2 linked regions of the Homo sapiens genome follow. The protein of the gene in region 1 purifies or fractionates together with the protein of each later gene. This does not show direct contact. Each region holds a gene or a part of one and is shown on either strand. Other genes may lie near its edges.

What was found.
Region 2: the proteins of POLD3 (region 1) and TECR purify together in Homo sapiens (tandem affinity purification; one large-scale study listed by IntAct). This does not show direct contact.

Annotation. Positions count from the first base shown.
Region 1 is NC_000011.10:74,595,499-74,599,151, forward strand, and holds part of POLD3 (DNA polymerase delta subunit 3), read left to right. Parts: intron 1-3,653. UniProt on the Homo sapiens protein: Accessory component of both the DNA polymerase delta complex and the DNA polymerase zeta complex.
Region 2 is NC_000019.10:14,532,488-14,536,140, reverse strand, and holds part of TECR (very-long-chain enoyl-CoA reductase), read right to left. Parts: intron 1-3,653. UniProt on the Homo sapiens protein: Involved in both the production of very long-chain fatty acids for sphingolipid synthesis and the degradation of the sphingosine moiety in sphingolipids through the sphingosine 1-phosphate metabolic pathway.

The DNA of each region.
Region 1 (3,653 bases):
TTCTTTATATATTCTGAATACAAGACCCTGATTGAAAAATTATTTGCAAAAATTTTCTCCCATTCTGTGGATTGTCTTTGTACTTTCTTGATGGTGTGCTTTGAAGCACAGACATTTTTTGTTGTTGTTGTTGTTTGAGACAGGATGTCACTCTGTTGCCCAAGCTGGAGTGCAGTGGTGTGATCTCAGCCCACTGCAGCCTTGACTTCCCTGGGCTCAGGTGATTTTCCCACCTCAGCCTCCCGAGTAGCCGGGACTACAGGTGCGTGCCACCACACTCAGCTAATTTTTAAATTTTTTGTAGAGATGGAGTCCCGCCATGTTTCCCATGCTGGTCCCAGGCTGGTCTTGAATTCCCAGGCTCAAGCCCCTGCCTTGGCCTCCCAAAGTGCTGGGATTACAGACATAAGCCACCATGCCTGGCCCATGGAAGTTTTTATTGCTGATGAAGTCCAATTTATTTATTTTTCCTTTTGTTGCTTATGCTTTTTTAAGTTTAAATTTTAAAATGATTAAATTTTTTTTAATCTTATTTTTTTTTTTTTTTTAGTAGAGATGAGATCTTGCTATGTTGCCCAGGCTGGTCTCAAACTCCTGACCTCAAGTGATCCTCCCACCTTGGCCTCCCAAAATGCTGGGATTACAGATACAAGCCACTGTGCCCGGCCTAAGAAGATTTTTTTTTTTCTTTTTTTTTTTTTTGAGGCAGAAGCCTTGCTCTGTCGCCCAGGCTGGAGTCCAACGGCGTGATCTCGGCTCACTGCAACCTCCGCCTCCCTGGTTCAAGCTATTCTACTGCCTCAACCTCCGAGGTAGCTGGGACTACAGGCATGTGCCACCATACCCGGCTAATTTTATTGTATTTTTAGTAGAGTTGGGGTTTCACCATGCTGGCCAGGCTGGTCTCGAACTCCTGACCTCAAGTGATCTGCCCGCCTCGGCCTTCTAAAGTGCTGGGATTACAGATGTGAGCCATCGTGCCAAGCCAAGATTTTTTAAATTGAGAAATAAAGTTGTATGTATTTATTGTGTACAACATTATGTTTTGAAGTATATATACACTGTGGAGTAGTTAAATCTAGCTAATAAATGTATTACATCACACAGTTATTTTGGTGGTGAAAACATTTAATGTCTACCATCTTTTCATTTTTCAAGAATATATCATCACTAACTGTAGTCACCATGCTATACAGTAGAGCTCTTGAACTTATTCCTGTCTAACTGTAATTATGTATCCTTTAGACCCACATCTCCCCATTCCCCCTCCCCTAACCACTTCAGCCTATGGAAAGAAAATTCTGCTTTCCACTTCCGTGAGATCACCTTTTACAGATTCCACAAATGAGTGAGATCATGTAGTATTTGTCTGTGTCTGGCTTATTTCAGTTAACATAGTCTCTTCCAGGTTCATCCATTTTGTTGCAAATGATAGGATTTTATTCATTTTTATGGCTGAATAGTATTCCATTGTGTATATACACTATATTTCCTTTATCCATTAATGGACATTTATTGATTCCATATCTTGGCTGTTGTAAATAGTGCTGCAATAAACATGTGAGTGCAAATATCTCTGACATACTGATTTCATTTCCTTTGGATGTATATCCGTAGTGGGACTGCTGGATCATACAGTAGCTCTATTTTTGATATTTTGAGGAACCTCCATACCGTTTTACATAATGGCTGTATTAATTTACATTCCCACCAACAATGTATAAGCATTCTGTTTTCTCCATACCCTTGTTGTGTTTTCTTTTTGATGTGTTGCTTGTGCTTCTGACATAATATCTAAGAAGGCTTTGCCTAACCCAGGGTTATGAAGATTTACTCCTGTGCTTTTTTCTAAGATTTTTTAGTTTTTGCACTTATATTTAATTCTGTAATCCACTTAGAGTTTAAAAAAATCATGGTTATCACTATGTTTAAGTTTTCTACAGATCGTGTGCTTGTTAGCATCATTATTATTATTGTTTTGAGACAGGGTTTCACCCTGTTGCCCAGATGGAAATGCAGTGGCGCAATTTTGGCTCACTGCAACTTCAGCCTCCCAGGCTCAAGTGATTCTCCCTCCTCAGCCTCCCGACTAGCTGGAACTACAGGCGCATGCCACCACACTTGGTTACTTTTTGTATTTTTTGTAGAGACGGGGTTTTGCTGTGTTGTGCAGGCTGGTCTCGAACTCCCAGGCTGAAGCCATCCTCCTGCCTTGTCCTCCAAAGTGCTGGGATTGCAGGCATAAGCCACTGCACCTGGCCATGTACTTGTTAACATTAGAAATGCTTCAGTCGGGTGGCTGTGGTGGCTCAGTTGTATTAGTCCCAACACTTGAGGAGGCTGAGGTAGGAGGATTGCTTGAGCCCAGGAGTTCAAGACAAGCCTGGGCAACATAGTGAGACCCACATCTTTATAAAAAGTTTTTTTAAAACATGAGCCTGGTGTGGTGGCATGCACCTGCAGTCTTAGCTACTCAGAAGGCTGAGGCAGGAGAATTGTCTGAGCCCGGGAGTTCAAGGCTGCAGTGAGCTATGATCACACCTGGGTGACAGAGCAAGAACCTATCTCTAAAAGAGAAAGAGAGGAGAGAGAAAAAAGGGAGGAAAGAAAGAAAAAGAAAAAAATGCTTTAGTTCCTACAGTAAGACTATACTAAAGCTTTCAGATTAGGTGTTAGTTCAAGCTAATTTTTAAATGAATCACTGAAATGTATAAATATTGACTATATCTTCTAGGAATCACTTGGAGTTGATTTTTTGTGTATGGTGTAAGGAAAGGGTCCAGCATCATTTTTTTGCACATGGGTATACGGTTATCCCAGCATTTTATAATTCATATTATTGTCTTGGCATTTTCTTGCTAATTATATGTCTTTCCCCACTAGAATATAAACTCTATGAAGGCAGGAAACTTGTCAGGTTCATCACTGTTCTGATTACTATTGCTGTGTCAGAAATCACCCCAAAATGTAGTGCCTGGAAACATCATTTTATTATGCGCATAGATTCTTTTGCTTTGGAATTTGGATAGGGCACAGTGGGAATGGCTTATGTCTGTTCCATGATGTCTGGCATCCCCGCTGGAAAGTCTCAATAACTGGAACCTGGTCATCTCTAGGCATCTTTATGCACATGTCTGGCTGTTGATTCTGGCCATCTGTTGGGCCTTTAGCTGGGGCAGTGGACTAGAGTGCTTGCATGTGGTCTATCTGTATGGCCTGGGCTTTCTCACAGCCTGGTGTCTCCAGGTAGTCGGACTTCTTACATAGAAGCTCAGGGCTCCAAAAGCTTGTGTTCCAGCACAATGTAGAGCCAATTGCCTTTTCTGACTAGCCTCAGAAGTCAAGCAGTGAATAACTGGTCATACCAGATTCAAGAAGTGGGCTCTACTTCTCAATGAGAGAATGTAGAAGAGCATATGGAATGGAAGATGCTGTCTCAGCCATCTTTGGAAAATATAACATGCCACAATTATTCTGTCTTCAGTGTCAGGCACATAATGAATGCCAATACATACTGAATGAATACCAAGCACTATGGTTTATGTTTGTTTTGAGATAGAGTCTCACTGTATCACCCAGGCTGGAGTGCAGTAGTTCAAACATGGCTTCCTTTAGCCATGACCTCCTAGGCTTAAGGGATACTCCCACCTCAG
Region 2 (3,653 bases), on another chromosome or scaffold:
TACTGCCCAACCCAAAGGGGAACTGGCCTGCAGCCCTGGAAAAGGCCTTGTTCTCTGGGTCTCAGGTCCCTCATCTGTAACTTTACAGAAGTTAAACCAGAAAAATTATCTCAAGCCTGGGGCTCTGAGATTCTGAGTGCCTACAGCAAAGAAATGGCCTAAGTACAAAGCTACAGCCAGGACAGAAGGGACTCCACCAGGAGAATCTGCCCAGTGAGTCACCATCTGCTCAAAGCAAGAAGCCTGCAGGAAAATCTGAAAAGCCTAAGATCCCCTCCAACCCCCTCAGGATCTTGGCCTGAGTCAGGCTAACATAGGAAAGGTCTTTATAGCTCACCACAGCTCAAGGCTCACCACTTTCCCTTTTTTTTTTTTTTTTTTTTTGAGACAGAGTCTCACTCTGTTGCCCAGGACCGGAATGCAGTGGTGCGATCTCAGCTCGTCCGCGACCTCCACCTCCCAGGTTCAAACGAATTCTCCTGCCTCAGTCTCTCGAGTACCTGGGATTACAGGAGTGCACCATGATGCCTGGCTAATTTATATATACATACATATATATATATATATATATATATATATATATATATATATATATATTTTTTTTTTTTTTTTTTTTTTTTTTTTTTTTTTTTTTGAGACGGAGTCTCGCTCTGTCGCCCAGGCTGGAGTGCAGTGGCGCGATCTCGGCTCACTGCAAGCTCCGCCTCCCGGGTCAAGCCATTCTCCTGCCTCAGCCTCCCAAGTAGCTGGGACTACAGGTACCCACCACCACACTCAGCTAACTTTTTCTATTTTTTAGTAGAGACGGGGTTTCACTGTGTTAGCCAGGATGGTCTCGATCTCCTGGCCTCGTGATTCACCCACCTCGGCCTCCCAAAGTGCTGGGATTACAGGCATGAGCCACTGCACCCGGCCAATTTTTATATTTTTAGTGGAGAGGGGGTTTCGCCATGTTGGCCAGGCTAGTCTTGAACTCCTGACCTCAGGTGATCCTCCTGCCTCAGCCTCCCAACGTGCTGGGATTACAGGCATGAACCACTGCACCCAGGCAAGGCTCATCACTCTCAATCCTGCCCTTACTGCAAGGGGCAGCCCATCCGATTTTAGGGCAGAGAAAGACCCTCTCCCAGCAGTCCACACTGACCCGCAGCACCTCGCCCTCCCTTCAGGGATGCTCTGTCCTCAGAACACAGCAGGAGAGCCACCAGCTGTCCTAGGGCAGCATCAGCAGAGAAGCCATCAGTGTGGACAAAACTGGAGTCTGACAAACCCAGGTTCAGCTCCCTGGCTTCCAGGCTCTGTGACCTTGACCAGCTTAGTTTACCTCTCTGAGCTTCAGTTGCATTATCTGTAAAGTAGAACAGTAGTTCCCATCTGATCAGGTGCTAATAAGACTCACCCCTGGGCAAGGTGCGGTGGCTCACACCTATAATCCCAGCACTTTGGGATGCCAAGGCAGGAGGATCGCTTGAGCCCAGGAGTTCGAGACCAGCCTGGACTAACATGGTGAAACCCCATCTCTACTAAAACTACAGAAATTAGCCGGGCATGGTGGCACCCACCTGTAATAACAGCTACTTGGGAGGCTGAGGCAGGAAAATCGCTTGAACCGGGGAGGTGGAGGTTGCAGTGAGGTGAGATCACATCACTGCACTCCAGCCTGGGTGACAGAGCGAGACTCTGTCACAAAAAAAAAAAAAAAAAAAAAAAAAAAAAAGGCCAGGCATGGTGGCTCACTCCTGTAATCCCAGCACCCTGGGAGGCCGAGGCGGGCGGATCATAAGGTCAGGAGATCGAGACCATCCTGGCTAACACGGTGAAACCTCATCTCTACTAAAAATACAAAAAATTAGCCAGGCATGGTGGCAGGCACCTGTAGTTCCAGCTACTCGGGAGGCTGAGGCAGGAGAATGGCGTGAACCCGGGAGGCGGAGCTTACAGTGAGCCAAGATGGAGCCACTGCACTCCAGCCTGGGCGAGAGTGCGAGACTCTGTGTAAAAAAAAAAAAAGAAAGAAAACACCCTAAATGTGGGTTATGGGGGACCCCAAGAGGCTCGCTTCTGGGTATTCAGCTGCGGGAAATGGGCAGTGACCTGGACTGCTGGAGGCTGAAGACAGACTGATTTTCTCAGGAATTAACAGGCTCAATTACAAGATGTAGTAGCTGTTTTTCCAGTTGCTGCTGGGCTCATTGCTTTGAGTCTCATCTGCAGTGGCAAAAACAGCAATAAAATAAAAAAATACATTAAAAAAATACTGTATCCTAGGATAAGCAGTTCGCTTACCGACCTAGCTCTGACCCCAAGACAATGCTAAGGCCTGCTCTGGTATTCTAAGAAGACGGCTTCAGCCAAGGCCTGGAGGTGACCCGTTCTAGAGAGAGGCTTCACCTCAATTAGGCCACAGAGTGGAAAACTTTTCCTCTCAGATCAGATGAGATTTGGCAGTGATATGAGGCTACTATGGAAACAGCCACCGATCTCCACTACTGCTGGGATCCCAACTGCCATGATAACAGTCCTCAACCAGACATTAATTTGTTGCGTGACAGTCAGCACGTCCTGCACCCCTCTGGGCATTACCTCTATCAGTTGTAAACTGCACTTCATAATCTCCAAGGTCTCTCCAGGGGCCAACCTTTCAGTGGACAACAGACTGCTTGAGGGTGGGAAGATGGATTTAGTCCCAAGCAGAAATAGATTTTTTTCTTTTTTTTTTTGAGACAGAGTCTCGTTCTTGTCACCCAGGCTGGAGTGCAGTGGTGCGATCTCAGCTCACTGCAACCTCCACCTCCCAGGTTGAAGTGATTCTCCTGCCTCAGCCTCCCAAGTACCTGGGATTTCAGGCGTGCGCCACCACACCCAGCTAATTTTTTATTTTTTGTAGAGACGGAGTTTCATCATGTTGGCCAGGCTGGTCTCAAACTCCTGACCTCACATGATTTGCCCACCTTGGTGTCCCAAAGTGCTGGGATTACAGGCATGAGCCACTGTGCCCAGCTGAAATATATCCTTTATTTATTTTTTTTAAAACAGAGTCTCGCTCTGTCACCCAGGCTGGAGTACAGTGGCGTGATCTCAGCTCATGGCAACTCCGCCTCCCAGCTTCAAGTGATTCTCATTCCTCAGCCTCGAAGCCAGTAGCTGGGACTACAAGCACGTGCCACCATACCCAGCTAATTTTTTTGTTTTTAGTAGAGACGAGGTTTCACCATGTTGACCAGGCTGGTCTCGAACTCCTGACTTCAAGTGATTCACCCGTCTCAGCCTCCCAAAGTGCTGGGATTACAGGCATGAGCCACCTCGCCCGGCCAGAAATATATTCTTTGATGTAGACAAACCTTTTCTCAAATTGCTTGTTAAGTGTGAGTGAAAGCATCCTTTCTATTTTTACTGACCTACAATACACACATGCAGTTAAACTAATCTGCTTGCTATGCAATCCGCTGGGCCGGGAAACAACTGCTTCTCCCACCCAGAAGCCCTGTAGCTATCGCCTCTATGGGTACTTGGCAAAGGTTGGCAGAGAATAACAAACAACACAGCAAAATAACAATTTATTTTTTCCTTCAAGGTCACTTTGAACAGTGAGTTTGAAGCTTCCCTTTTTTTTTTTTTTTTTTTTTTTGAGACAGACTCTCGCTCTGTCATCC